Linked DNA regions of Homo sapiens. The protein of the gene in region 1 purifies or fractionates together with the protein of each later gene. This does not show direct contact. Each region holds a gene or a part of one and is shown in the gene's direction. Other genes may lie near its edges. The genes, in order: PFKFB2, ZCCHC17, FAM83B, POLDIP3, PGAP2, ZC3H11A and MOB2.

What was found.
Region 2: the proteins of PFKFB2 (region 1) and ZCCHC17 purify together in Homo sapiens (affinity purification with mass spectrometry; one large-scale study listed by BioGRID and IntAct). This does not show direct contact.
Region 3: the proteins of PFKFB2 (region 1) and FAM83B purify together in Homo sapiens (affinity purification with mass spectrometry; one large-scale study listed by BioGRID and IntAct). This does not show direct contact.
Region 4: the proteins of PFKFB2 (region 1) and POLDIP3 purify together in Homo sapiens (affinity purification with mass spectrometry; one large-scale study listed by BioGRID and IntAct). This does not show direct contact.
Region 5: the proteins of PFKFB2 (region 1) and PGAP2 purify together in Homo sapiens (affinity purification with mass spectrometry; one large-scale study listed by BioGRID and IntAct). This does not show direct contact.
Region 6: the proteins of PFKFB2 (region 1) and ZC3H11A purify together in Homo sapiens (affinity purification with mass spectrometry; one large-scale study listed by BioGRID and IntAct). This does not show direct contact.
Region 7: the proteins of PFKFB2 (region 1) and MOB2 purify together in Homo sapiens (affinity purification with mass spectrometry, with the first as the bait; one large-scale study listed by BioGRID). This does not show direct contact.

What each region holds. Positions count from the first base shown.
Region 1 is NC_000001.11:207,059,775-207,063,274, forward strand, and holds part of PFKFB2 (6-phosphofructo-2-kinase/fructose-2,6-bisphosphatase 2), read left to right. Parts: intron 1-1,137; exon of another isoform or gene 1,138-1,156; intron 1,157-2,178; coding exon 2,179-2,304; intron 2,305-2,845; coding exon 2,846-2,942; intron 2,943-3,368; coding exon 3,369-3,435; intron 3,436-3,500. UniProt on the Homo sapiens protein: Synthesis and degradation of fructose 2,6-bisphosphate.
Region 2 is NC_000001.11:31,338,532-31,342,031, forward strand, and holds part of ZCCHC17 (zinc finger CCHC domain-containing protein 17), read left to right. Parts: intron 1-425; coding exon 426-517; intron 518-3,500.
Region 3 is NC_000006.12:54,940,771-54,943,184, forward strand, and holds part of FAM83B (protein FAM83B), read left to right. Parts: coding exon 1-1,237; 3' UTR 1,238-2,414. UniProt on the Homo sapiens protein: Probable proto-oncogene that functions in the epidermal growth factor receptor/EGFR signaling pathway. Activates both the EGFR itself and downstream RAS/MAPK and PI3K/AKT/TOR signaling cascades.
Region 4 is NC_000022.11:42,612,084-42,616,019, reverse strand, and holds the start of POLDIP3 (polymerase delta-interacting protein 3), read left to right. Parts: upstream 1-1,136; 5' UTR 1,137-1,162; coding exon 1,163-1,221; intron 1,222-1,240; exon of another isoform or gene 1,241-3,936. UniProt on the Homo sapiens protein: Is involved in regulation of translation. Is preferentially associated with CBC-bound spliced mRNA-protein complexes during the pioneer round of mRNA translation. Contributes to enhanced translational efficiency of spliced over nonspliced mRNAs.
Region 5 is NC_000011.10:3,822,060-3,825,559, forward strand, and holds part of PGAP2 (acyltransferase PGAP2), read left to right. Parts: intron 1-849; coding exon of another isoform or gene 850-934; intron 935-1,553; coding exon of another isoform or gene 1,554-1,681; intron 1,682-1,823; coding exon 1,824-2,076; intron 2,077-2,210; coding exon 2,211-2,317; coding exon of another isoform or gene 2,318-2,396; intron 2,397-2,676; exon of another isoform or gene 2,677-2,960; coding exon 2,961-3,069; intron 3,070-3,268; coding exon 3,269-3,399; 3' UTR 3,400-3,500.
Region 6 is NC_000001.11:203,847,623-203,851,122, forward strand, and holds part of ZC3H11A (zinc finger CCCH domain-containing protein 11A), read left to right. Parts: coding exon 1-65; intron 66-708; coding exon 709-785; intron 786-2,088; coding exon 2,089-2,404; intron 2,405-2,892; coding exon 2,893-3,059; intron 3,060-3,434; coding exon 3,435-3,500. UniProt on the Homo sapiens protein: Through its association with TREX complex components, may participate in the export and post-transcriptional coordination of selected mRNA transcripts, including those required to maintain the metabolic processes in embryonic cells.
Region 7 is NC_000011.10:1,473,280-1,476,779, reverse strand, and holds part of MOB2 (MOB kinase activator 2), read left to right. Parts: intron 1-3,500. UniProt on the Homo sapiens protein: Stimulates the autophosphorylation and kinase activity of STK38 and STK38L.

The sequences.
Region 1 (3,500 bases):
CTGGGCCCCTCCTCCCACTTCTCCATTGAGATCTTTCTACATTTATTTCTCAAAAAATGAAAGTCATATTTCCCATCCAAGTACCTCCATTTTACAGAACTGTTTCTTAATCTTACAAGGTCCCTTAGTACCAGGCAGAGGGGCAGCCGCAACTTGCAGGGCACCTTCTGGGAAGCAGTGGTGGGAAGTGGGAGGTGAAGGTGTTTCTTCCTTTTTCCCCCATCCTGTGCAGGGCCTTCCCTCATTGGAGCCGGCAGAGCCTGAGCTATCCCAGATGACCTCAGTGTGGTTTTTGGCCCCGGGACAGTGGCTGGCAGCAGTTCAGGTCCTTCTCCCACCTCTCCTCTGCAGCAAGATGGGCCGGGAGGAGCCAGCCCCTGTGAGCAAAGTGATGAGGAACCTCTTTTTATGGAGAAAAGCTGCAAGGAAGCACAAGATCTGTGTTCTAGTGCCAGCTGTACCCTTGACTCATTATGTGTCCCTAGACAAGTCACCTGTCCCCTGAACATGTAGTTTGCCCTGCCTGTCCAGTGAGACTTATCTCTGCAAATGAGCATTCCTGAAGTAAGTTAATTTACTAAGGAAGGGTAGACTGAGGACTGTTAATGCTTCTCAATTGTCTTGCTTTTACGTGGGCCATGGTGGCAGATTGGCCCTGATGCCCTTTGTGGGCTGGCTCTACCCTGAAGCTTCCTGAGGTCTATTCAGAATGTGTATCAAGTAAGCTTTGCCAACTCAATCTCACTATGGTTTAGAAATTCTGGCTTAAAGAGGAGCTCATGACCTGAGTGAAAAGGCCAAAACAGCTTGAGGCAGGGCTTTTTGCAGTGGGCAAGCTAATTCTTGCCCATGGTTCTGAAGGGATGAGTGGGATCCTGGAGACAGAAACTCTGTTGGACCTATTATAGGAGCCAGCTCAGTTCTGCACTGGTAGAATCTCCAAGCATTAGACCTTCCTTCACAGCTCTGTCATTTTTATATTTCTAGGCATTCTTATGTTAAGGATGATGTCATTGTTACTTTTCTTTCTTTCTTTCTTTTTTTGAGACGAAGTCTTGCTCTGTCGCCCAGGCTGGAGTGCAGTGACGGGATCATGGCTCACTGCAACCTTGAACTCCTGAGCTCAAGCAATCCTCCTGAGTAGCTGGGACTATAGGTGCACACTCCCACATCTGGCTAAGTTAAATATATATATCTATATATCTATATATCTATATATATCTATATCTTAAATATTATATATTTAAGATATATATAAATATCTTAAATATATATATTTTATATATATCTTTATATATATCTTTATATATCTTTATATATATCTTTATATATATCTATATATCTTTATATATATCTTTATATATATCTTTATATATATTTATATATATCTTTATATATATATATATATATATATATATATATATATATTTTAAGAGACAAGGGTCTCTCTATGTTGCCCAGGCTTATCTTGAACTCCTGGCCTCAAGTGATCCTCCCACCTCATTCTCCCAAATTGATGGGATTACAGGCATGAGCTGTCATGTCTGGCTGCAGCATGGTTATTTTCTTTCTTAGCCTTGCTACTTTTTTCCTCTTTCCACCTTGGGTACTGCAGTGAAGACCTCAGACATGTGGGAAAGACGTATCTTGGTTTGGGCATTTTCTGGAAGCCTGCATAACCTTTTAACTCTATTTCAGGAGGCCTGCCTGATATCTCCTTATTTGTCTTCCCAGACTTGCTGAACCTTTGCTCCACAGGTTTATGAAGATAAAATGAGATTATGACTATGAAGTTCGTAGCTCAGTGTATAAACCTTACTAGACCCCAGCGGGGCTGGGCGCCTCACGCCTGTAATCCCAGCACTTTGGGAGGCTGAGGTGGGTGGATCATGAGGTCAAGAAATTGAGACCATCCTGGCCAACATGGTGAAACCCCATCTCTACTGAAAATACAAAAATTAGCTGGGCATGGTGGAGGGCGCCTGTAGTCCCAGGTATTCGGAAGGCTGAGGCGGGAGAATCACTTGAACCTGGGAGGCGGAGGTTGCAATGAGCTGAGATCACGCCACTGTACTCCAGCCTGGTGACAGAGTGAGACTCCGTCTCAAAAAAACAAACACCAAAAAACCTTACTAGGACTCTAGTCATTTCGTTTTATTTTGTTTCATTTCCTTCTAGCATGGGCCTCCTACATGACCAACTCCCCGACTCTGATCGTTATGATTGGTTTGCCAGCCCGGGGTAAAACCTACGTGTCCAAGAAACTAACACGCTACCTCAACTGGATTGGAGTCCCCACCAAAGGTAAGTGTGGCTCATTCCCTAGGAAAGACAATTATTAGTTCCTGGGCCTCACAGGTCTCTGGGAGACTTATTCTTCCTGGCATCAATGCTATAGGGTGCTTTTGGCAGAAATAGCAGTTGCTTTCTGGTTTACTGGAGTTATTCTCTATTCCCAGACTTGTCTCCTCCTGGCGTGGGTGGATTGGCCTAGTTTTGAGGGAATGCCTTTGATAGGACTGTTAAGATTTAGATGAGCATAGGGCTGTACCTTTTCAGAAGCCTTACATGGACATCATCTTATATAACCCTAGCAGTGTCTCTGTGAAATAGACAGAGTGGCTGAGGAAATTGAAACCTCAGACAGCTTAAGACTTGTCCAAGGTCTAGAAAGTCAGGGCTTGAACCCAACTCTTTTGACTCTTAATCTGATATTGTTCCCAACCTACCATGCTGCCGCTTTTTTCATCCCCTTGGTCACTCCGACATTAGGCCAAGAAACAAGTCCCATTTGGTGGGGCCATCATATTATTTTGCTGCTGAAGGATTTGGGTGTCTTCTACAGTGTTTAATCTTGGGGTGTATCGGCGTGAAGCAGTCAAGTCCTATAAGTCCTACGACTTCTTTCGGCATGACAATGAGGAGGCCATGAAGATCCGCAAGTGAGTCTTGTTTAAGGCCTGATCTCCAGGTCAGCTCTTTCTTGGCCGTCATGAGACTTGGTGTGACAGGGCTTGGTTTCATCTCAGTAAATATCTTAAGGGGAAGTTAAATGGAAGTTATCTGATGGGCAAGTGACCTTGGGCTTGGGTGGTCAGAAGAACAGGGCTCAGGGTGATTGATACCTGTGTGCTTGTAGGAGAAGTCTAAAGAGGGCTAAGATCTGTGCATTGGGGCAGGGGCAGGAAGGGGTTATAGGATGGTGTGAAAACCCTCAGTGAGAAAGTTGAAAGATCTAGTTAGAGAAAGGTTTTGAACAGTGGGAAACTAAGTGGGCAGGGATGTGACTTCTGTAGCCACCCGAATGTTTGTGTCTCTGACTGTTTGAGCTTAGCTCTCCTTGCTGGTTTCATTTGCTCTTATGGCAGACAGTGTGCTCTGGTGGCGCTGGAAGATGTTAAGGCGTATCTCACTGAGGAGAATGGTCAGATTGCGGTAAGCTTTATCTGCTGCTTCTTCTTTCTGGTCCCCACCCTTGCAGCAGCCTGGCTACCCAGCCC
Region 2 (3,500 bases), about 180 Mb from region 1:
CCAATGTGACAAATGTCTTCATGCTTAAAGAAGCTCTAGACCAAGTCCAGAAGGAGATCTAGTCTCTTGAAGTATTCAAAAACCTATTCTGGACTTAGGGATATCTCAACAAATCACTATGCTGAACTTACCTGGAAGAAAAACTTTTATTTTCTGCCTGGTTACTTCCACAAGCCATGGATTTTTTGAGCTACCATTTTTGTCTTTCCCTCAGAGGGACAAGAATGAGATTAAGACTGTTTCCTAAAATTCTTCTGCCACAGGGTCTACCTGTTATGCTTATTTGTATCTGCAATGTTCCTAGCACAGTACCTGGTCCATTAAAGAAGCTCAATGTTATGATGAAAACGTTGACTCTTAATTTTAGACTGGCCATCTAAATGATGTATTTAAAGTTTTTGGTGACTTTTTTTGGTCTCTTTCAGATGAAAAATGATAGAATAAAAGTATCCCTCTCCATGAAGGTTGTCAATCAAGGGACTGGGAAAGACCTTGATCCCAACAATGTTATCATTGAGTAAGTAAAAGGTTTGGAAAGGTGAAAATTCTTCTGCCTCCCAAATCATAAAATGGTTTAGTAAATCAGACTGAACTGGTAACTCTACCATTTATGGACTTTGTGATATTGATAAGTTACGTAACCTTTGCAATCTTTGGTTTTTAGAAATGTAAAATGAAGTTAGACCAGGCGTGGTGGCTCACGCCTGTAATCCCAACACTTTGGGAAGCCGAGGTGGGCGGATCACCTAAGAGGTCAGGAGTTTGAGACCAGCCTGGCCAACATGGCGAAACCCCGTCTCTACTAAAAATACAAAACTAGAAATTTGCTGGATGTGGTAGTGCGTGCCTCTAGTCCCAGCTACTCGGGAGACTGAGTCATGCACTAGAGTCTCTTGAACCCAGGAGGCAGAGGTTGCAGTGAGCTGAGATCATGCCACTGCACTCCAGCCTGGATGACAGAGTGAGACTCGGTCTCAAAAAATAAAATAAAGTAATAAAATAAAAATAGTTAACACCTTGCTGCATAGAGTTCTAAGATGAAACGTTAACGTACCAAGCTCCTGGCATTGGAGTGCTCCATCAATGGTTTTGTTTCCTTTCCCTTAATCTCTTTCTGTTTCTGCCCTTTAACGAGTTAGCTAATAAGCATTCATGAAGAACTATTCTTTACCTCTCTCCCAGTGATTTCTGCAGGTGGGGTTACGTGGGTCTCTTCCACATAGAGACCACGTGGAAGGGTAGAGTAATCCAGGAACAACTCCAGCGGGGTTTAGACTCCCACATCTTGGGATACACTGTGCTCTGAAAACAACATCTTACTTTCGTTGGCTCTTCTGACCTTTCATTTAGGAATGGGAAATTATCTATGTAGGACAATGTCTGGCAATACAAGGAATGTTCTGTCTGTCTCAAGTCTTTCTTGGATTTCTTTTTTTTTTTTTTTTTTTTTTTTGAGATGGGGTCGCCCAGGTTGGAGTGCAGTGCCATAATCACGGCTTACTGCAGTCTTGACCTCCCAAGCCCAAGCTATCCTCCCACCTCAGCCTACCGAGTAGCTGGGACTACAGGCATGCGCCACCACACCTAATTTTTATTTTGTAGAGACAGGGTCTCCCTATGTTGCCCAGGTTGTTCTTGGACACCTAGGCTCAAGCGATCCTCCCACCTTGGTCTCCTAAGTGCTGGGATTACAATTGTTAGCCACCATGCCCAGGCTTCTTTCTTAAATTTCTCATCGGAGGTTCTTGGATCCCTAAAGTCTCTTAAAGGGGGATCTTGGAGGGTTTTTTTTTTTTTTTTTTTTGAGACAAGTTTCACTCTTGTTGCCCAGGCCGGAGTGCAATGGCACAATCTCGGCTCACCGCAACCTCCGCCTCCCAGGTTCAAGTGATTCTCCTGCCTCAGCCTCCACAGTAGCTGGGATTACAGGCATGTGCCACCATGCCCGGCTAATTTTGTATTTTTAGTAGAGATGGGGTTTCTCTATGTTGGTCGGGCTGGTCTTGAACTCCCGACCTCAGGTGATCTGCCCGTCTCGGCCTCCCAAAGTGCTGGGATTACAGGCGCGAGCCACCGCGCCCGGCCCTTGGAGGGTTTATTAACTGTTTTTAGTGTTTTAGAAAGCCATCCAAAATTCTATGTGTGTCCTCAGGTTAACCATGCTGTTATTTTGTTGCTTTTGATGATAAAATATCACATTGTTTGTCTTATGTTAATTAGGTACGCTCAATGACAATTATGTCATTGATGAATTTAAAAGACAAGAAAAATGATAGAATGTTATTTGAGTGGGATCTTATTGGTGAAAAGTTTGGAAAGCCTTATGTTTATAGTTCTGAGCAAAATCACTTTGAATTTGAAGGAATTTTATCTGGAAGTAAGGGAAATGTTATTGAATACATACTGCAGTGCCAGGCATTTTATGTACATTCTTGGGTACATAACAACCTGCAAAGTGGATGTTATCTCCATTTTACCTTATATTCCTACTTTATAGCTTGGTGCCTGGTGATAAGTAACTTACCTGTGGTTACATAGAAAATTATCAGGGACTCAAAACTCAGTCTCTCTGACCTTAAAGCTAATGCCCTTTTCACCACAAAATGCTTCTCACTCTTGCATGTGACTTACAGAACTTTTCATATTTCTGTGGTTTAGTCTCTAAATATTAACATGTTTGTAAGGCTGATTATTGACAAAATACTGTCAGTAATAGTAGGAATCTTTTATAACTCAGAGTGCAGAAGTGTTTAAATCTGGCTGTGGTTCAAGTTAGTGTTGGGAAAAGGAAAAAGAAAAAATTCTGATGATTGCATTGTAATAAATAGCTTCTGCTCCAAAAAATCCAATGCTATATGGACTCATTAAAAAATAGTGAAATTTCCCAAAGCCACCCTTACAGTGATAAAATATAAAACATGTAAGATAAAAGAGCTAACCCTGTTTCTCAGAAAATGGGTAGGGAAGGGAAAGGGCTCCCTGGTTTTGGGCTGTCTCTGTGTAGAACTATTTTTAGTAATAATCAAGTGGCTGAAACAGTAACTTTTGTTGTAAATTATGTCTATAGCTGCATCCAGGAAGGAAGCATGGCATAATGGAATGATTAGAGGATTTAGAGCTAGACTTGAATCAGAAAGAGTACTGGTTCTGCTCCAAACTAATATATGACTTTGAGCAGATTAATTAGTCTATCTGAATCTTAGCTTCTTTACTATAAAAGGAGACAGTAACATATATCTAAGGAATGCTTGAGTGATTTAAGTAAAATCTTATTTGTAAGGAGCCAGCTTCATGTCTAGTCTATGGTAGACATACATGTAGCTACTTGTAGTTATTGTTTTAAATGCCGCTTTGTTTTATCCTCTAATATCTGAGATTATAGCACCTTTTCTTTTTTCCTCATACTATGGTGTACGGAACCACACCTTTGCTTTTGAAAGAGTGTGTGTGTAAGACCCACAAAAACAGAGACCATGACTTGTCTGCCATTGTGCCTGATG
Region 3 (2,414 bases), on another chromosome or scaffold:
CAAGCTCCCATTGCAGTCAGAGGCACCAAAAATGCACACCTTGCAGGTTCCTGAAAACCACTCAGTAGCCTTAAACCAAACTACAAATGGCCATACTGAATCAAATAACTATATATATAAAACCTTGGGTGTAAATAAGCAGACAGAAAATCTAAAGAATCAACAGACTGAGAATCTACTTAAAAGGCGAAGTTTCCCGTTATTTGACAACTCAAAAGCCAACTTAGATCCTGGAAATAGTAAGCATTATGTATATAGTACACTTACCAGGAATCGAGTTAGACAACCAGAAAAGCCCAAAGAAGATTTGCTGAAAAGTTCTAAAAGCATGCACAATGTGACTCATAACTTGGAGGAGGATGAGGAGGAAGTTACCAAGAGAAACTCTCCAAGTGGCACTACTACCAAATCAGTTTCCATTGCTGCTTTACTTGATGTGAATAAAGAGGAATCTAACAAAGAACTTGCTTCAAAGAAGGAAGTTAAGGGTTCCCCAAGTTTTTTGAAAAAGGGGTCTCAGAAGTTAAGGTCATTACTTAGCCTTACCCCAGATAAGAAAGAAAATCTATCCAAAAATAAAGCACCTGCCTTTTATAGATTGTGTAGTAGCTCTGACACATTAGTTTCTGAGGGTGAAGAAAATCAAAAACCAAAGAAATCAGACACAAAAGTTGATTCATCTCCTAGAAGAAAGCATTCTTCCTCATCGAATTCTCAAGGCAGCATCCACAAGAGTAAGGAAGATGTAACAGTTAGCCCATCTCAAGAGATAAATGCTCCACCAGATGAAAATAAAAGAACACCTTCTCCAGGTCCAGTTGAAAGCAAGTTCTTGGAAAGGGCAGGAGATGCCTCTGCCCCAAGATTTAACACTGAACAGATCCAATACCGAGATTCAAGGGAGATTAATGCAGTTGTTACCCCTGAAAGAAGACCTACTTCTTCTCCAAGGCCAACGTCCAGTGAGCTTCTACGATCTCATTCAACTGATCGGCGTGTTTACAGTCGTTTTGAGCCGTTTTGTAAGATTGAGAGCTCTATTCAGCCAACAAGCAACATGCCAAATACCAGTATAAATCGCCCAGAAATAAAATCTGCGACTATGGGCAACAGTTATGGCAGGTCTAGTCCATTGCTTAATTACAACACTGGTGTTTATCGCTCATATCAACCCAATGAGAACAAGTTTCGAGGATTTATGCAAAAGTTTGGAAACTTTATACACAAAAATAAATAGCTATTAAAATGCAAAATGAATGAGGCTATCAATATTTGTCCAAAGAAAATTGTGGACAGTCTTTGTAACATGCCAATAGATTTTCCTAAGGACAGAATTATGGGTATGATGTATATGTTCACCAGTGTCCTAGTATAAAGTTATTTTTCTGTGTGATAAAGTTAGGGTCTGCTGTAGATAGAATTTCTCTGTAAACACATTATTTGTAAGTGGTAATGGTAAAAATAATAGATGTATTTAAATCATTTTCTTTAGACTGAAGATTTTAAGTCTCACTTAGAAATTTTTGTGGACGATGTATGGTGTATGGTGTATGGTGTATGGATTTTAACCATTTCCTTTTAAAAAGGTCATACTACCCTCAGTAACCCTTTATAACATGTGTTTATAGTGTTTTCATATCTTCAAAAATATAAGCAAATGGGACAAAGCCCTTTTTTAAGATTAACTTGAAGTTCTACGGGATAACTTGTTATATTTTATTAATATTATTTTTTCTGTGGATCATTGTACAGCTGTTTGGGCAACAGCAGTACCTTTTACATTTTTTATTTTTTATTTTTTTTTCTGCCTGAAGTGTTTGCAAAGTATCAGCCTCATGTAGTATAATGACATTCGTAGGAATTTATTTTCCTCAGCCTTTGAAAACGGTCTGGGATGTGCTTCTTTCTACACTGGACCCAGGGAGCTGTCCCCCTCTTACCCATAGGCTGCTGATTTTTTATAGTCATTCCTTACTTCACATTTAGGACAAACCAGTAGGAATTTAGAAAATCTGAATGATTCCCCCTCCTTTTTCTATTGTATAAAAGCTTTTAGAAATGTAAATTTCTGCCTAAATTTTTGTTAGATTGGCATGACAATGCTAAGGGGTCTTGCTTGCGAAAATTCTTGCTCTTTTTTTTTTTCTTTTGAGATGGAGTCTCGCTCTGTCACCCAGGCTAGAGTGCAGTGGCGCAATCTTGGCTCACTGCAACCTCTGCCTCCCAAGTTCAAACGATTCTCCTGCCTCAGCCTCCTGAGTAGCTGGGATTACAGGTGCGCACCACCACACCCGGCTAATTTTTGTATTTTCAGAAGAGATGGGATTTCACCATGTTGGCCAGTCTAGTCTCAAACTCCTGACCTCGTGATCCTCCCGCCTCGGCCTCCCAGAGTGCTGGGATTACAGGTCTTG
Region 4 (3,936 bases), on another chromosome or scaffold:
GCCACCGCTCCTGGCCTCTTACCCAGTTTCTGCACGGAGCTCCTGATGCCTGATGGCCAAGAGGACATAACCCCACCTGTTCTAAGGGCATGGAGTGTATTTTTAGAGTGATTGGACAAAATATGTGCCGAACACCTACGTCAGGTCTGGCGCATGCTGGAGGCTGGGGTTATATCAATGCAAAAGCCATTCCCTGTATTTAACACGTAAATGAATTAGTCTCTTTAACTCTCCCAACGCCCTATAAATTATTTGCTCCATTTTACATATTAAACGCTGTCACGAACTGAGCTGCTGTGTGAGGCCGGGGCCGGACTTATCTTTCTGAAGCACAGAGAAGCGGTTATACGCAGAAGTTTGGGAGAACTGGGTAAGGCCGCACACATGGAAATTGCCAGTTTCGTGGGTCCCAACGTCAATACTGTGGGCAACCTTAGACCGGCTCAAAGCGCAGCTGGGGACGGTGATGAAGTGCAGAGCGTCCACAGCCAGCGACAAGACTGCCAAGCAACTGGCAGCCTGAGTAACGGAGAAAACAACGAAAAAAACGCATTCACCACCTACCAACAAGAAACAAAAAACACGACCACCCCACAGTCAGTCTACTTTTTAGGCGTGAATAAGGTCGGGCAGATCGCAACTCCCAGGCATCCCGCAAAGTAGGCGGGTCACCTTGAGGGCGACCTTTACCCGCTCAAAAATTCGTCTCACATTAGCAGTGAGGATTCGGGCGTCACCCCGAATCGTTATTTTCCTTACTCATAAGTTTAAGGCATAAGGACGTTTTTAGTTTATTTCCTAGGTAATGAATTCTATTCTCATTAGGCGTATGATGACTATCGTAGTTGACTGTTGAGGTCATGATCCAGTTCCATTGAAGTTTGTCTCACTTGTTAATAATGTATTTTGTTGCTTTTCATTTAATTTTTTCCCTCGAGGAAAATAAATAATTCATAATGTGCCGAACTTCCGTATGCAGATGAGCAGCCAGCACCGCGAAGGCTCACGGGGAACGTCCCCGCCCCTTCCGGTTCTTGCCTGCTTTGAGCTGGCTGTCGCGAGAGTTGGTCCGCGGACGCCGGAAGTAGTTCGTCGCTCCCTAGCGGCCGAAGGGGCGGGCTCGCGGGGTCTCGACTGCTTTCGGCTTGCTCGGCGGAGCAAGATGGCGGACATCTCCCTGGACGAACTCATCAGGAAGCGCGGGGCGGCGGCGAAAGGACGGTGAGAGGCCTTTCCTTTCTTCGGGGTTTAGGGTCCTCGGCCTAGTGGAGCTCGAGGCGGGGGAGGTAGCGATCCGGGAGCGACGCGGAGGACCGGGTGCGCCCGCCCCCGACCACAGCCGCGCTCCTCATTGGCCGGCTGCCGCCGTCCCCGCCGTGGCCCCGACCGCCCGCCCACTGGCCGAGGCGCAGTCCCTCTGGCGGCCCTGGGAGGCCGACGGGGCCGCGGCGGGGACAGGGTGCCGCCTCGTGGACCTGAGGGGCTGCCCCCTGGGGCCCCCGCGTTCCGGGGTCCTGGGGTCTCGGCGGCGCAGCCTCCTTGCCTGTGTGGACTGGCATTTGGGCCCCGCTCCGTGATCTCGGCGCTGCCTGGTCTCCACCCATCTTAGAGTTGAGACAACCGAAGTTTAGTAGCGGGGAAGTGACTTGCTCCGACCGCCGAAGCTGAGGCGCAAGCCCAAATCCCCCTGCACGCGGCCCCTGTTAACACTCGCCTCTCTTTGTGCGGCGTTTTAAGTTTTCTGAGCCCTTTCATATACACGATGCCTCATTTAATCTTTTACAGTCCTGTTGTCTGCTAGCTATTCATGTTACCCACCTTTTACTGATGGGGAACTTGAGGCTGGAAGTGGTAGAGTGACTTGCCCGAGGCCACGGAGAACTGAGCGGCGGGCTGAGCGCGATTTAATTGCTGGCTGAGTTGGCCTCCTACATGGGCTTGAAAAACTGGTGTGTTGGGCAGGAGATTGGTTATTTCCTTAGGGAGAAGAAAGTGCTTGAGCTGGCTGAGGAGCCATGGAGGTGATTTGCAGTCATGTCTCCCAAACTTCCCCTAGACCCTTAAATGTTGTTAGTCATTTCAAGCCTTCGTGAGCTGAGTTCATCTGTATGAAGAAGTGAGAACTTTGCCCAATAGTTTCCCAACACACATTAAGTTTAAATGTCTTTGTAAATAGCCAGGATGTAAATATGTTAGATATTGTTTTCTCAGACATTTGTTCTCTCAGCAGATGTTTATTTTTATTTTTATGTTTTTTTTGAGACGGGGTGTTGCTCTGTCGCCCAGGCTGGAGTGCAGTGGTGCCATCTCGGCTCACTGCAACCTCCGCCTCCCCGGTTCCAGCGATTCTCCTGCCTCAGCCTCCCAAGTAGCAGGGACTACAGGTGTGCACCACCACGCCCGGCTAATTTTTGTATTTTTAGTAGAGATGGAAGTTTCACTGTGTTGGTCAGGCTGGTTTCGAACTCCTGACCTCAGGTGATCCTCCCGCCTCGGCCTCCTAAAGTGCTGGGATTACAGGCGTGAGCCACCGGCCCGGCCATTCCGCAGATGTTTATTAATACCACCCGTATGCCTGTGGTTAGGTTTTTCTCTTGATGTCTGAAATGTATCCCTCACCTCCTTCCCCATCCTGGACACTTGTATCAACTACAACTGCCACCACCACCTCATAATTCGCAGCCAGCACTTACCTGGCTTGTGGTTCGTAACGGGCACACATTAGTATTTGTTTCCTCAACTACTGACTGTGAAAGCTCTCTCAGATCTCCATCTAGTGACTGATGTGAAGCTGGTGCTGGCTCCTCTGGCCACTTCTAAGTCCATCCACGTTTTGTAGGTTCCTTTGGAAACGACAGAATGATCCACCCCAGGTTCTTCTCTCTCTGAGGTCACTCCGCCAGTTTCTGACTGCAGGTGGACTGCACTGTAGTCTATTTGATCTCTATGTTTTTGGTTTTAGTGTGTGCAGAGTTTTGTGTTGGGCAGTAGGTGGGGCTGCAGGAATGGGGGGTGGTTATGTGTGGATCCACAGGAACAGGGGCCTTGCAGCTGGATACACCTGGCACTTGCCACTGTTGGGTTCTGTTTCCCTGGCCAGGGGAGTTCTGAACTAGGCAGTTTCCTCACTTGGAATGGTGATTCCTGGTTGAGCGGGATTAAATGTGAGAAGGGTTTTTTTTGTTTGTTTTTTTGAGAGGGAGTCTCACTGTATTGCTCAGGCTGGAGTGCAGTGGCACAGCCTTGGCACACTGCAACCTCTGCCTCTTGGGTTTAAGTGATTCTCCTGTCTCAGCCTCCCAAGTAGCTGGGATTACAGGTGCCCGACACCACGACTGTCTAATTTTTGTATTTTTAGTAGAGATGGGGTTTTACCATGTTGGCCAGGCTGGTCTCGAACTCCTCACCTCAGGCCGAACCCGCTCGGCCTCCCAAAGTCCTGGGATTACAAGCATGAGACACTGCGCCGGGCCAGAAGGTATGTTTTAAAGTTTGTGCCATGTGGCAAGTGTTCAGCAAAGGCTGGTAATTATCTTGGACCTTTCCTTAAAGGCATAGAAGCACACAACGCCCCTGGAGCATAGGTGAGCACTGGGACTCTAGACGCAGACCACCAAGCTTCCAATCCCTGCTTCTCCCACTTTCCCTAGGACCGTCTGCAAGTTACTTAACCATTCCTTGCCTTTCTTTCCTTATGTATAAAACCTGAGTAATATCTACTTTATTAGGTTATTGTTAGGACTGAGTGAATTAATATACCTGAAGTGCATTGAAAAGTTCCTGACAACGGGTACTTAAGTGCTTGATAGACGTTAGCTTTCGTTATTGTCATTGAAGGCTTCTTAAAGTAAAGGAGTAACATGATTCAATTTTTAGCTTGAAAATATTTCTTTGCCATTGTATGGGGATTGGATTGGGGCAAAGAGTGCAGGCAGA
Region 5 (3,500 bases), on another chromosome or scaffold:
AAAAACAAAAGCAAAAACAAAACGGCCGGGCGCAGTGGCTCACGTCTGTAATTCCAGCACTTTGGGAGGCCGAGGTGGGCGGATCACGAGGTCAGGAGATTGAGACCATCCTGGCTAACACGGTGAAACCCCGTCTCTACTAAAAATACAAAAAATTAGCCGGGCGTGGTGACGGGCGCCTGTAGTCCCAGCTACTCGGGAGGCTGAGGCAGGAGAATGGCGTGAACCCGGGAGGCGGAGCTTGCAGTGAGCCAAGATCGCGCCACTGCACTCCAGCCTAGGCGACAGTGTGAGACTCCGTCTCAAAAAGAGAAAAAAAAGCAGATTCTGGCCAAGCGAGGTGGCTCATGCCTGTAGTGCCAGCACTTTGGGAGGCCAAGGCAGATGGATAGCTTAAACCCAGGAGTTTGAGACCAGCATGGGACACATGACGAAACCCTGTCTCTACAAAAATTAGCCTGCTACTCAGGAGGCTGAAGTGAGAGGATCACCTGAGCCCAGGAGGTCAAGGCTGCAGTGAGTCATGATCATGCTATTGCACTCCAGCCTAGGCGACAGAGTGAGACCCTGTCTCAAAAAGGGGGAAAACAAAATTAAAAAATTAAAAAATGCAGATCCTCAGGTTCCAAGCCTTCTGCATTTTCAAACAATTCCCCCAGTGAGTTGTATGGGTAATTAAAGTTTGTGAAGCACTGCTCTAGGCCCTGGAGTCTAAGAGAGCCTCTTCCCATCTTTGGCTTTCCTGTCCCCATCTAAACCCTTGTTCAGTCATCCCCCATCCTTTCACCTCTCAAACAAGCAAGACACCAGTCCCTGCAGCTGTGTATTATCTTCTCCTTTTTCCTTAAGGACTGAAGCTTCAATAGGAGTTCCAGGCATTAAGATGGATGGTGGAGATGCACAAGAACATGGTCATTTCCTTAGACTACCCCAGGTTAGGAGCACCCACTTTCTTTTTTCTTTTCTTTTTTTTTTTTTTTTTTTTTTTTTTTTTTGAGACAGAGTCTCACTCTGTTGCCCAAGCTGGAGTGCAGTGGCACAATCTCGGCTCACTGCAAGCTCCGCTTCCCAGGTTCACACAGTTCTTCTGATCAGCCTCCTGAGTAGCTGGGACTACGGGCGCTGGCCACCACGCCTGGCTAATTTTTTTTTTTTAAGTAGGGACAGAGTTTTGCCATGTTGGCCAGGCTGGTCTTTAACTCCTGACCTCGGGTGATCCACCCACCTCGGCCTCCCAAAGTGCTGGGATTACAGATGTGAGCCATCGTGCCCAGCCCACCCACTTTGTTAATCATGATCAGAGCAGGGGTGCCATTCTACCACCTTGGCACACCTGCCTAGAGGAGTGAGTGGCGCTGGGAGCAGACTGAGGAACATCTTAGCTGAGCAGTGAATCCAGCACTGTTCTAAGGAAGCTCAGATGGTCTGTGACTCATCCCTGTCCTCTGGACTGAATCTGAGGCCTTGGAACTCACCCAGGGTCTTAGTGGAGGCACAGCTCTGAGCTATGGGTGTAGAGCATCTGAACCCATCTACACATTGACCAAACACAGGCAGGTTCCAGTCTGCGGGGGAGATGGAGAAGGTGCCACCATGCTGCTGCACAAATCCCAGGATAGCTGGGGAATGAGAATCCAGCACTTTGGGCCTAGGACCTGGAAGGAGAGGTCTTTTGGGAGAGGTATGGGGACATCTGAAGGAGGACTTCTTGGAAGGGGAGGGGCTGGAGCAGAGGCAAGAGTGATTTTGTCAGATGGAGAGAAGGTTCTCCACATGGGCGGGGCTGGCAGAGGCAGATGCCCAGACAGGTCACAACTCTCTAGGTGCCCAATTACCTGCCCTCGGTGAGCTCAGCCATCGGCGGGGAGGTGCCCCAGCGCTACGTGTGGCGTTTCTGCATCGGCCTGCACTCGGCGCCTCGCTTCTTGGTGGCCTTCGCCTACTGGAACCACTACCTCAGCTGCACCTCCCCGTGTTCCTGCTATCGCCCGCTCTGCCGCCTCAACTTCGGCCTCAATGTCGTGGAGAACCTCGCGTTGCTAGTGCTCACTTATGTCTCCTCCTCCGAGGACTTCAGTGGGTGCCTGGATGAGGGAGGAGTGGGGAAGTGTTCCCTGAGGGGACGGGCCTGCCCCTACCACATTCGGACCTTCCTACTTCGTGGTGTGGGCACTCCCTGCAATGTGGCTCCCAATCCTCTTTCCCTCCAGCCATCCACGAAAATGCTTTCATTGTGTTCATTGCCTCATCCCTCGGGCACATGCTCCTCACCTGCATTCTCTGGCGGTTGACCAAGAAGCACACAGTAAGTCAGGAGGTACGGTCTATCCCTAGCGGGGGCTCCAAGGCAGCCCAGAAGAAAATCAAGGACATCTGTCCTCAGGATTCGGGTAATGGTGAGGTGGGAACTGAGTTCTAATGGGAACCCTGGCAGAGGGGTGCTGGGGTTGGGGCTGGGGCTTGGGAACAAACTGAGGGTGGTTGGTCAGAATCTAGGACTATAGCACTGTGTTTGGGTAGTGTGGGAGACTGGAGAATAGAAGAGATGGAGGCTGCAAATGGGGATAGAATGAGGAGTCGCATCTAGGCGGCAGTGAGTTAGGAACAGTGTCAGAGGACTGGTCTGTCATAATTCCAGCGCCCCACCCATGTACATGGGTTTCTTTTCCCCCACAGTATTTGGAGGTGGGGTTGGTGGGTGACTCCATGTAACTTTCATACTCCATCCCCCTGAAGTGGAAGCGGCAGGAATACCACTGCTCCTCGGCCCATCACTCCCCCAGAGGCAGGGACGTGAACACATAGTCGTCATTCTTGCTGCCCCTGCCTGTGCTCCCTTCCATGACCGCTAGTGGGAGCCAAGGGAGATAAGGCCCAGCCCTTAGGAGTTAGGGCTGAGAGGGGAGCCCACGCTCTCATACCCAGCAAGCTGCAGAGTGATCAGACAGCCCATTCCCTAGGATCGCAAGTCCTACAGCTGGAAACAGCGGCTCTTCATCATCAACTTCATCTCCTTCTTCTCGGCGCTGGCTGTCTACTTTCGGCACAACATGTATTGTGAGGCTGGAGGTGAGGCCAGGATAGGATCCACAGGCGGTCATGAGTGGCTGCGGGGCAGCAATGATGTTTTTGATAATGGGCAATGGTCTTGGGGACTGGCTGCCATTGTGTTCTCTGTGGCAGACCAATGGTGGTGTGATTTATCAAGAGGCCTCTGAGCGGGTAGCTGGAAGTTCACCATGTCCTGTTCCTTGTGTCCTCACAACAGTGTACACCATCTTTGCCATCCTGGAGTACACTGTTGTCTTAACCAACATGGCGTTCCACATGACGGCCTGGTGGGACTTCGGGAACAAGGAGCTGCTCATAACCTCTCAGCCTGAGGAAAAGCGATTCTGAACCCTTCAGTCCTGCTTGGGAGGACGCAGCCCACTGCCCAGAAACAAGAAACACGATACCATTCTGGCCTTCCCCACCCCACATCCTCTCTTGGCCTTACT
Region 6 (3,500 bases), 3.2 Mb from region 1:
CTCCCCGTCTCAACACGAGGCCACTCCAGGGGCAAGGCGGCTGCTGCGAATCACCAAAAGAACAGGTAACAAGAGAACTTGGTCTCTAGTACCACGTCCCCACATAATATTCCAGAGGAGTGTTCCGTGGGATCTTCCTAGGAGTTGTTTGACAACCTTTCTTTACTCAGATAACGTTGAAAACACTGAATTAAATGAAGTTTTTCAGTAGTGCTATGTAGACCTATGCTATTTTGTTTTATTTTATTTTTGAGACAGAGTCTCACTCTGTCACCCAGGCTGCAGTGCAGTGGCATGACCTTGGCTCACTGTAGCCTCCACCTCCTAGGTTCAAGTGATTCTCCTGCCTCAGCCTCCCAAGTAGCTGGGGCTACAGACATGTGCCACCACACCCCGCTAATTTTTGTATTTTTAATAGAGATGGGGTTTCAGCATGTTGGCCAGGCTGGTCTCAAACTCCTCACCTCAAGTGTGATCTGCTTGCTTCAGTCTCCCAAAGTGCTGGGGTTACAGGTGTGAGCCACCATGCCCGGCCAACCTTTGCTATTTTAATGTGTATTTTGAGACTTTAGGAGCACAGATGGGCTTTATCTGTAATTTTATTTGTCCTGTCTTACTACTTTCATTAAATAAAGTTTTGTTTAACATATCTATCATGAAGTTGCAGCTTAAATAAAATAACTAATGATGTCTTTAATGTGAATACAGGGATGAAAGAAGAGAAGAACCTTCAGGAAGGAAATGAAGTTGATTCTCAGAGCAGTATTAGAACAGAAGCTAAAGAGGTAAATTTAAGATTATTGTATGGTTTTGTTCATGGCAAACAAAGGCTAGATAATTGGTAGTTTTACCTTACAATAAATTTCTAAGTACTTCATTCATATATTAGGTAAACAGTCTTTCTTTTTACTTATAATTTCTTATGAGAATTTCCTGTAGTTCTATGTATATCAGTATTCGCTGCCCTTTTAAAGTTTTTTGTTTGCCGGGCGCGGTGGCTCACGCCTGTAATCCCAGCACTTTGGGAGGCTGAGGCGGGCGGATCACGAGGTCAGGAGATTGAGACCGTCCTGGCTAACACGGTGAAACCCCGTCTCTACTAAAAATACAAAAAATAAAGTTTTTTGTTTAATTGGCCATTACTTTTTTTTAACTGAGTTTTTTCTAATGCTATGCATCATACAAAAGTTGGAAATTTTATTTTTTTTAAAACTGAACAAACCCTAAAAATATACAGCTCAGATGTAACCATCATTATCTTTTCCATGGATTTCTTCGAGCTTTTTCAGTCTTGCTCTGTTGCCCAGGCTGGAGTGCAGTGGCATGATCTCGGTTCACTGCAACCTTTGCCTCCTGGGTTCAAGCGATTCTTGTGCCTCAGCCTCCCATGTAGCTGGGATCAAAGGCATGCACCACCAAGCCTGACTAATTTTTGTATTTTTAGTAGAGACAGAGTTTCTCCATGTTGTCCAGAGTGGTCTCGAACTTCTGGCTTCAAGTGATCTGCCTGCCTTGGCCTCCCAACGTGTTGGGATTACATGTGTGAGCCACCACACTTGGCCTTCTTCGACCTTTTTGTTTATATATGCATGCATGTGAATTTGTTTAATGTTAAACCCATGTTTAGAACATAATGGAGAACTCTACAGTGTATCATTTTACAGCCTGCTTTAACTTTACCATGTTAATAATTCTTCAAGAAGTTTGTTTTTACTGACCACATGATTCTCCATTATACAAATACAGTCTTTTTCTGGACATTCAGATTTTGTTTTACACAATTTAAAGTAATATATTTGTACATAAATCTTTGTGCAGGTATTTGATTATTTAGGAATCATTAGTATTTGACTTAGAGTCATGGTTGTCTAGCCTGTGGAATCTGGGTTTTTTATTATTCCATACATCTGTAATTCTAATCTTTCATCTTTAACAGGGTATTGTCTATTTAACATCAAATAAAGAGCTTTTCTCTCAGATTCTGGATCATGTGAGATTCTGCTTAACTTAGATGTTAGCCTGGTACTTACATCATACAGGTTATTAGAGGTACCAGATTTTAATTCTGTCATTCAAATTTATCCACAGGCTTCAGGTGAGACCACAGGAGTTGACATCACTAAAATTCAAGTCAAGAGATGTGAGACCATGAGAGAGAAGCACATGCAGAAACAGCAGGAGAGGGAAAAATCAGTCTTGACACCTCTTCGGGGAGATGTAGCCTCTTGCAATACCCAAGTGGCAGAGAAACCAGTGCTCACTGCTGTGCCAGGAATCACACGGCACCTGACCAAGCGGCTTCCCACAAAGTCATCCCAGAAGGTGGAGGTAGAAACCTCAGGGATTGGAGACTCATTATTGAATGTGAAATGTGCAGCACAGACCTTGGAAAAAAGGGGTAAAGGCAAGTATTTCTATACTGTGTATTGCTTTAGGTTATCAAAATTACCAAATTCAACCCAATTGTTGCCAGTAACTTCCTGGCAACAATTGGGTTGAATTTCATTTGCCTTCTATCCACAGGTAGATAGTAATATTTCTGATATTTTTATACAGAGGCAAAACGAGATGAATTCTTTTCTCAGAATTTAAAATTGCTATTTAAAAAGCTTTGTGTAAAACTTTCTATGGTGCATCTTTCCTCTGGTATTGAATAAAAACAAGGAATAGAGGAATGGTAACAAATTTAAGTGGTATTGTATCTACATGGTGACCACCTGTAGTGACCACCATGTGACCACAAATTGCCTTTGAATCGTTTTCAGTCTCTTTTTAAATGAATTATTTGTGGTATTTCTAGTACTGAAGGAGTTTTGATATTTTATTCTGAATTATTCCCCATTTAAAAGAGTCTATTCTCACTGCTTATCAGATATTTTCTGCCCTTTGTAGCTAAACCCAAAGTGAACGTGAAGCCATCTGTGGTTAAAGTTGTGTCATCCCCCAAATTGGCCCCAAAACGTAAGGCAGTGGAGATGCACGCTGCTGTCATTGCCGCTGTGAAGCCACTCAGCTCCAGCAGTGTCCTACAGGAACCCCCAGCCAAAAAGGCAGCTGTGGTAAGAAGTATATTCACTTTGTGGTGCTTTATTCTGTGTGGTAGGAAAGCAGGAAAGACTAACTCTCCACTAGCATTCTATCTTGAGTATATCACTTCCTGGCATTTCCTAGCATTTTAGTAATTTGGGTTACTACTGTATTTTATACTTACAGTTTGATATTTGTGAAGTAGCAGGACAGGATTTTTTAAAAGCTAATTTTTAGGTGGCAAGATATTTTGCTTATTTATATACTCAACCTTTAGATTATCGATTCTTAGATTCACAGGCTTAAAGAATCATAGCCACAATTCTAAGAAGGCAGCAAAAGAAAATGAATATGCTCAAATTAAAAAGCCTGACTCTCACTGAATTACCTGACTCTTCCTTTTGTAGGCTGTTGTCCCGCTTGTCTCTGAGGACAAATCAGTCACTGTGCCTGAAGCAGAAAATCCTAGAGAC
Region 7 (3,500 bases), on another chromosome or scaffold:
CAGAATTTGTGAGACATAACTCAAGCAGTGCCTAGAGGGGATTTATAGGATTAATGCTTTCTTAGAAAAAGAAGATGACTTTCAGTAATCTACGTTTCCAACTTAAACTAGAAAAAGAGCAAAATAAGTCAAAATCAAGGACAAGAAAGTAAATAAGAACAGAAAGCACTGAGATTGATTTTTAAAACAATAGGGGAAATGAGTGAAATCAAAATGTGATGACTTTGAAAGGTAATAAATTGGTAAGCCTTTAGTAGGTACAAAGATAAGAGAGAAGATGCAATGATCAATAAAAAGGAGTGAGTGTCACTAAACCCTGTGGATGTAAAGAGGAGTATCACTGTAGACCCAGTGGATGTTAAAAGGATAATAAGGAAGTATTGGAAAAAAACCCTCTGTGCACATGAATTCTATGGCTTGGGTTAAATGGACCAACTCTTTGGAAAGCGCAGTATATCAGAACTCGCCTAAGATAGGCAGTGCCATAAGGTAAGAAGAAAGAATAAAAGGCATCCAAATTGGAAAAGAAATAAAACAATAAGCCCCCCTTATCTACAGTTTCCGTTACCCACAGTCAACTATGGTCTGAAAATAGTTAATGGAAAATTCCCGAAATAAACAGTTAATAAGTTTTCAACTGCATGCTGTTCTGAGCAGTGTGATGCGGTCTCCACCGTCCTGCTCCAGGTGTGCCTCCTCCTCCCTCGGCCCAGCTGTGCCTCGGCCCCCGTGTGGATCCACTGCCGCAGTGCCAGGGTGCTCGTGCTCAGGTTGCTCTTATGTGACATGAGGCGGCCCAAAGCGCAAGAGCGTGATGCTGGCAATTCAGATATGCCAAAGAGAAGACAGAAAGCACTTCCTTGACCTAAAGATGAAAAGGTGAAAGTTCCTGACTAGAAAGAAACAGATTGTGTGTGAGGTTGCTAAGATCTAAGGTAAGAACAAATCTCTTCTTTATGAAATTGTGAAAAAGGGAAAAAAAGTCCCTTTAATTTCGCTGTTACATCTGAAATTGCAAAAGTGACAGCCACAGTGCGTGTTGAGTACTTGGATCTGTGGGTGGAGGAGGTGAGAGGATGGGAGCAGCAGCGTGTTGCCATTGAGCCTGCAGGAGGCCAGCAAGGGACCCCCTGATATGCGACCCCAGCCACTCACTGCAACTGATTGTCCTCAGTTTATGAATTACACTGGGTGTGGTGGCTCACACCTGTAATCCTGGCTACTCAGGAGGCTGAGGCGGTGGATCACTTCAGGAGTTCGAGACTAACTTAGCAACACAGCGAGACCCTATCTCAGTCAATCAATCAAGTCTGCCTGTCTTTATTTTAGTAATGTATGTATAGGAGAAAGCGCAGCATATATAGGGTTTGGTGCTCTCTGTGGCTTCAGGCATCCCCTGGGGGTCTTGCAGTGCATCCCCTGTGGATGGGGGGGATTGCTGTATCCCTGTGCACACGTGTGATTGGGAAAACCTCAAGGATTGTAGCAAATAATAATATAAATTTAGTGAGGTCAACACGCACAAATCAGTCATAGGTCTGTATATTAGCAATGTGAAATTTAAAACTGAAATTAATATTTAACATGCCATTTATAATAGCTCCAAAAATAATGCGATCCTTAGTTATAAACTTAACAAGACATTCCCAGGATCTGCACCCTGGAAACTACGAAATGCTGTTACAGAAAATCGAAGGTCTACATAAATGGAGAGACGCACTGCGTTTATCACCTGGAAGATGACTCCAAACACAAATTCTCCCCCAAACTGATCTGTTGATTTAGTGCAGTCTCAATCCAAATCCCAGCAGAGTTCAAGTATAGACCAGTTAGTTCTAAAATTTATATGGAGGGACAAATTAACTGAAATAGCTACAATGATTTTGAAAAAATAAGAGGAATCTCACACTTTTGAGACTTACTGTGAAACTCTAGTAATTAAGACAGTGTGCAGTGTTGAAGGAATGGATACAGAGCTCCATGGAACACAGTAGAGTCCAGAGATAGCCCCACACAAACGTGTGGACGGAGAGTCCGGAGACAGCCCCACACAAACGTGTGGATGGAGAGTCCGGAGATAGACCCACACAAACGTGTGGATGGAGAGTCCGGAGACAGCCCCACACAAACGTGTGGATGGAGAGTCCGGAGATAGACCCACACAAACGGGGCCATCAGAGTTTTGACAAAGAGCAAAATAAATTCAAGGGAGAAAGGGTAGTCTGTTCAAAAATGCTGCTGGGAAAAGCAGTCATTTGTGTCAAAAACCAAACGCTGACCTATCCCTCATGCCTCGTGCAAACATCTAAAACTCCAAAGCTTTTGGAAGAAACCATAGGAAATCCTTATGACCTGACACTAGGCAGCAAAATTCAGAACTTTTGCTTCAAGACACTTTTAAGAGAAAGAAGACAAACTCCAGGCTGGGAGAGAAAACATTTGCAAATCACACATCCCACAAAGGACTGATATCCAGAATACATAAAGAACATACACAACTCAGCAGTAAGAAAACAAAACAGTCCAGTTAACTGTCAGCAAAAGAAATGAGCAGACAGTTTGCCAAAGAGGGTGTAAGGATGGCAGCTGGGGCTATCCTGTGTTGTTAGCAATTAGAGAAAGGCAAGCCGAAACCATGGGCAGACCCATGTCCACCTGCCCACATGCCGGTCGGGACACTGGTGCTGGCCAGGATGTGGCCACCTGGGACTCTGTTCTGCTGGCAGGGACACAGGTGAATAGATGAGCACGCCATGTCCATCTCTGCAGGGGCAGTGTCTGGGCAGTGAGGAGCCGTGGACTTCCGACACGTCTGCCACGTGACTGCATCCCAGGGGCCTCCGTGCAAGAGGGGCCCAGATCGGGAGGATCCGCGCGGTGCGATTCCTTCCCGCGGCCCATCCCTGAGGAGCCATCCCCGGGGTGCTGGGGGCACAGCAGCACGGGTGTGAGGGGCCACGTAAGCCGCCGCGTGTCCTGATTGTGGTTATGAATGCGTGAGTCCACATGTGGATAAAAATCTTAGAACTATATACCAGAAACGGTTTACTGATAATTGAAGAAGTACAGGAAACAGTGGTGTTCCATCTTTCAGAACAGATGGGACAATCCACAGTGTCCCTGAGTTACTGCTTTCTCTGGGTTTGCATTGTGGAAAAGGGTTTCCGTCTCTAACCTCCACTGTTTTGAGACCTGTCGCACACCTGTGGCCAGGTGCATCAGATGTCAGCTTGCAGTGTCAGGGTACCTGGAGCCAGTGTCTGACTCCTGCAGAGTGCTGAGCCATCCTGGCTGGGTCCTCGCCCTGGAAACATGGGCCTCAGCCTGGCCCTTAGGGGCTGGGCCTCCCCTACACCATCTGGGAACCCCAGGACAGTGGGGATACGTGCGTCCTCTACATCATTCTCGAGGAGCAGATGCTGAAAGGACTGTTGTCTCTGCATTCTCAGAGGGTCTGACAGCCTGGTGGCGATGCCCACGGTGAGGCCTGCAGCCTGGGA